Regions from separate parts of the Homo sapiens genome. Here region 2 is linked to region 1. The links come from fine-mapping of genetic effects on gene expression. Tissue or cell type: subcutaneous fat. Region 1 holds a variant in brackets; the other region holds the start of a gene. All regions are shown on one strand. Distances are between the middles of the regions.

Region 1 (2,683 bases):
CATGGCTAATTTTTGTATTTTTAGTAGAGATGTGGTTTCACCATGTTGGCCAGACTGGTCTTGAACTCCCAACCTCAAATGATCCTCCCACCTGTGCCTCCCAAAGTGCTGGGATTACAGGCGTGAGCCACCATGCCCTGCCGAATTGTGCATTTCAAATGAGTGAATTGTATGGTATGTGGATTATATCTCAATAAAGCTGTTTTAAACAATCCTAGCTCTACCACTTATTAGTTGCCTGACCTTGGGCAAATAACTAATCACTTCAGTGCCTTAGTTTTCTCATCTTTAAAATGGGGACCATCACGGCATCCACTATATCAGTGTCCTGGGGCTGCCATAACAAATAACCCCAAACTGGGTGGCTTGAGATGGCAGGCATGTGTTCTTTCACAGTTCTGGTGGCCAGAAGTCGGAAATCAAGGTATCAGCAGGTCTGTGTTCTCTCCAAAGTCTCTGGGAAGGAACCTGTTCCATGCCTCTCCCAGTGTCTGGTGGTGGCTGGCAGTCCTTGTCACTCCTCGACTTGTAGAGGCGTCACTCCAATCCCTCCCTCTGCCATCACATGTCCTTCTTCCCTGTGTGTCTTTGTCCCAATACCCCTTTCCTTCCAAGGATACCAGTCATTGGATTAGGGCCCACCAGAATCCAGTATGACCTCATCTTAATGTAGTTACATTTGCAAAGATCTTATTTCCAAATAAGGTCACATTCACCAATTCCAGGCAGACAAGAATCTCACAGGGGATACTGTTCAACACAGTATACCCCCTAAAAGGTTGCTTTTTCTTATGTTCCGCCACCATGAGACAGTAAAGTCCTCTTACCCCCCCTAGGTGGTTCACATTAGGGTTTTTTTTTTTTTTTTTTCACTTGTAGGTAAGAAACTTGACTAAAACAGGGGCAAAGGCACTCTTTCCTCAGAGGAGCAAGATGGGAGAAATGTGACCAGGTCCAGTCCGAGACATCCCTGCAGACCTTTGCAACTAGGTCTGGGGTGCAGATGTGGGTCAGGGCGGTTCCATTTGTGAGTCTTTTCAAGGTAGACAACACTGGGCTTGTAGAGGGGAGAGGAAATGAGTCCCTAATCTGAGGAGGAACCTGGACTCTGTTATGAAGCCTCTTTCTAGACAGTTGCCTACATGGCAACGAGGCTCTCAGCAAGCAGTTGTTGATTGACACATTGTCCCAAACAGGCTGTCCTGTCAGAAGTCCCGGAATGACACTCCTTCCAGTTCCGTCCAGTGGCCGGCCTCGACAATGTTGCTCCGAAGACAGCACAGAAATTGCCCGTGGCCACTCGGAGACTACAGGAAGGCAATGGCTGCACTCAAAGATAAAAGGTCCACTCAGCAGCTTCAAAAACATTTTGTTCTCTCCCAGCCAAGTTTCTGTTCTGCTAGGAGTTTTTACTTGT[T/G]ACCTAGAAGCGGCCAGTGCCCAAGGGAATGATGCTGTCTAAACTTCCTCCTATTTACTGGCCTCTCCAACCCCTCCCACTGCCGCTGGGAGACTAGTGCTTCCCAGGAGCCTTTGAGGCAGCCGTGCCTGCAGCCAGCCTCCAGCCACATCACCGCTGAGAACTCCATCCTATCAGATGGAGGCCCAGAGCTGGACGGCAGCCAGTCATAGCCACGAATGTTGGCACCGGGCTTAAATCCACATGGGCCTCCCGCCCGCCTGCAGTGGGTCCAGTCTGGTCTCCCTGCTCTGCTTCTCTCCCTGCTCTGGCCAAGTTGTGTGTGCAGAGTTTCTTGGTCCAAACCATACACTAACAGCTGGGATTTGTATTACTACATTGCATCCTTAGCTTTGTAGATACAGACTCTGGAAATGTCTGTAAGTTCATTTTTCTTTTGCACATTGATTAGTTTGATCCATTAACATGGGCACCCCATTTCAGAAATTCCAGAGCCCACTTTTGCTTGTCTGTGAGTGGAAGTGACCACTTGTCTTGTTGCCCAGAACTGGCTGGGAGCAGGGCCAAGATTCCCCCCTTAGACACACCACTCAGTGCGTGCAGCCATCTAAAATTCTCCAAAACCTCTGACTCATCCTCTTTCTCACTGTCATTCATTCATTCTAAGAATATTGAAATCTACTGTGTGCTAAGGGCACAGTGCTGAAAAAGAGACAACGGCCCTGCCAGCCTGGAGTATCCTTGGAGTCTAGTGCAGGGTAGGAATAAGTAAACAGTGTAACCCACTGAGGTAGGAGGAAAAGATAGGAGCACAGAAGAGGAACACCCGGCCCAGCCTTGGAAATTCAGGAAAGTTTCAGGAAGAAAGGCCATACACATCAGGCATACAAAATGTCAACATCAGGCAGCGGGGAATTGGTTGATGTTGGCATTAAACATGGCCTTAAGGTGCACCAAGTGCCTGTCATATGGGCAAATGCCGCAATTGCACCAGACATGAGGAAAATGGGGAAGGCATTGACTTGCTGGTTTTTCCATTTCTTGGTACAAAATCTCTTCATTGGCAGCCTTTAAAAATGAGGTGGCAGTGTCATGGACACAGGCAGGGGAACATCACACACAGGGGCCTGTTGGAGGGTGGGGGCAAAGGGGAGGGAGAGCATTAGGACAAATACTTAATGCGCGTGGGGCTTAAAACCTAGATGACAGGTTGATAGGTGCAGCAGACCACCGTGGCACATGTATACCTATGTGACAAACCTGTAC
Region 2 (2,683 bases), 96 kb after region 1:
CCTGGAATGAGCCAGACATGCTTCAGGTTCCATGGAGTTTTTTTTTTTTTTTTTTTTTTTTGGATTAAAAAATTTGGTGACTTTTCAAAGTTTGACAACCTCAGGATTAAACAATTTATCGAGCCCCTCTGCCATCTCACTCTCCATGAGGGCAGTCCAGGTTGAGACTCAGATACAAATCACCTTTATTGAGTTCTGCTGGGATGGACAGGTCACTTCATGTATACGTAGATCCTCTCCTTAATTCTATTTAAATCACTTAGGTGACTATCACCATCTCCCATCAGGGTTCGGTGACCTGCCCACAGCCTCCCAAGTAGAAAATGATCCAGGGAGCATGTGAGTTAATGATACATCACATCTGGAGCCAGGCAGGCATTTCATGGGTGGGGATGAAGATCTTCCCTCCAATTTCAGAAGTCTGACCTTGCAGGTTCTGAAGTAACTATATACATAAATATTTATAAGGAGAACCCTTTAAGCAGAGGGGTGACCATTTATCCATGAGAGATGGCTTAGGAACGGATTTGGGTTTTGGAGAGCTTCTCTAGCTCCTCCAGCTCCGCAGCCTGTCACACGCAGGATGACCTTTTAGAACAACTGAGTGCTCCATTACACTCCTCACTTGCGGATTCAAACTGTCTCTGGGCAGGGTCCCAGTTTTGCCTGTCCAGGGACACTGTGCACTTGGGTTGACTTTGGTAAATGTTTGAGTAAGGGATGAGTGAATAAATTCGGGGAGAGGGGTTGTTGAGGGAAGGCCACCCCTGGCTCTAAAGACTTTCCAGGGTTTATGGGGTGGCCACGCCTGTCCTGGATCCCCATGGTGCCTCTGGATGGGCCATTTCATCCTTCCTCCCTGTGGCCTCCACATCTTACAACCCAGCCTGGAGGGAGGGGCCGCGCAGCCCCGAGGGGCCAGGTCTCCCAGGCGGCGTCCACTCCCCTCGAGGGTGGAGGAGGTAGGTGGGGACCCCGGGCCGGCGGGGCTCGGCTGGGGCCCCTTCCCTGAGGTCTGCAGCCGCAGCCCTCTACCTGGCTCCCCGGCCGCCCCTTCGCGGCCCCAGATCGGGCGCACCCGGCGGGCACCTGGCCCGCCGCCCCCCGGGGGCCCCGCCAGCTGCTCCCGAAGCCGGCCCGGGGTGGCGGGGCGGGCCCGAGCGCTAGTCGACTCTGGGACCGGTCCCCCGGGGCGCGGCCGGGCAGCAGCCCCCGCCTCCCCGCCCCGGGGGCCGGGCCGGGCTCCCGGGGGGCGGGGACTCGCCCAGTGGCAGCAGCGTCCGGGCCGGCGGCGGGCGCCGGGCGGCTTCCTGCAGGCGGCGCCGGGGCGAGCCGTTGCCGGCTGCAGCCACCGCCGCCGGGTCGCCGGGTCGCGGGGGCCGCGGCGCTCGGGCCGCGTCCGTGCCTCCCGGGCGCGCTGCGCGGCCGTCGCTGCTGCCCGCGCTCGTGCCGCCGCCGCCGCCGCCGCCGCTGCTGCCGGTTACGCCAGCCCCGCCGCCGCCCGCTCTGATTCTGCGCATAGGCAGCCCCCAAGCCTGTCATTCTGCAAAAACACAGTTTACTCAACACACCACACACACTCGCACACACACGCGCGCACACACACGCGCACACCGGACCCCGCGCGCACACGCACGGAGGGCGCGAGCGAGCAGACGCGCACACCGGCGAGCCAAGTTCCGCAGCCTGGCATGGCTTCTGGGGACCTTTACGAGGTACGGGGACGCGGGGGCGCGGGCCGGCCCCAGTCAGCGGGCGGCGGCGGGCGGCGGCGGCGGGCGGCGGGGACCGGGCCGGGGCCGGGGCCGGGCGCAATCCGGAGTTGCCGAGCCCGCGGCGGCGGCGGCGGCGGCCGGAGGGTGGCGGGGGCCGGGCGCGCCTCCCGCCCGCCGCCCGCCGCCCGCCGCCTCCCGCGGCGCCCGCGCCCGCTCCCTCTTTCTCTTTCTCTCGCACACACACTCTCTTACTCCATCTACTTTGCGGCCTTGGAGGGGAAGGAGGAAGCCGGGCGGAGCCGGGGCGGGGGAGGTAGCGGTCCCGGGGAGGTGTTTCTCGCCCGACGAGCCGCCTCGAGTACAGAAAGTACAGGTAAAAGTCGGCGCCGGACGTGCTGGGAATGCGGGGGGGCGCGCCGCGGCCGGCGGGGGTGTGGGGCGGGGGTTGCGCGGCCCGGCTGGGCCGGGGGCGCGGGGGAGGAGGGGGGCGGGCGATCGGAGCGGAGCCTGGCCGGGGCGAGGCGGGGTCCCGGGGGGCTGCGAAGGGGGAGGCTGGGTGGGGGTTCGGGGGGACAACCGCCAAACCGCTCCCCGGGGTCCCCGGGCCACCTCCCTCACCCCCCACCTGCTGCCCCCGCACCAGCTCGGACGCCCTCCGGGCTCGGGCGTGGGGGTGGCCCTTGCGGGTGTCGTGCTCCCTGGGGGCGAAAGGGGGCGCTGCGGAGGGCCCTGGGTGGGAGGAGAACGTGGAAGTCTGAGGTGTTGGGGACATAGGACACAGATGCCAGCCCAGCGCCCAGTACTCTCGTCACCCTCAGTGGATACCTGGCTCCAGGTCCTAATGAGTAGTGGCCAGCGTTGGATACTCTCATGTCTTCCCAAAAGTGGCGAAGGAAGACATTAGTCTGGCATCTTTCAAACAATGGAGGAACACCCATGGTCTTTGGGGAGCAAGGGCTTAGGAACAC

Evidence for each region. PIP is the estimated chance that this variant, and not a neighbour inherited with it, causes the effect.
Region 2: CDYL2 starts here. The variant in region 1 is fine-mapped to the expression of CDYL2 in subcutaneous fat (GTEx, PIP above 0.99). The same link has a PIP of 0.9 or more in left ventricle, tibial nerve and visceral fat.

Annotation. Positions count from the first base shown.
Region 1 is chr16:80,899,333-80,902,015 of GRCh38, reverse strand. No RefSeq gene overlaps it. Among named protein-coding and RNA genes, the nearest start is that of ARLNC1, 8.1 kb to the right of the region's middle. The variant T/G (reference allele first, on the strand shown) is at 1,418.
Region 2 is chr16:80,803,182-80,805,864 of GRCh38, reverse strand. It overlaps CDYL2 (chromodomain Y like 2), which reads left to right and starts at 1,267. Exons shown (of 7, transcript NM_152342.4): 1 at 1,267-1,715. The coding sequence starts at 1,692. RefSeq lists silencers at 987-1,046, 1,067-1,376, 1,987-2,056, 2,337-2,486.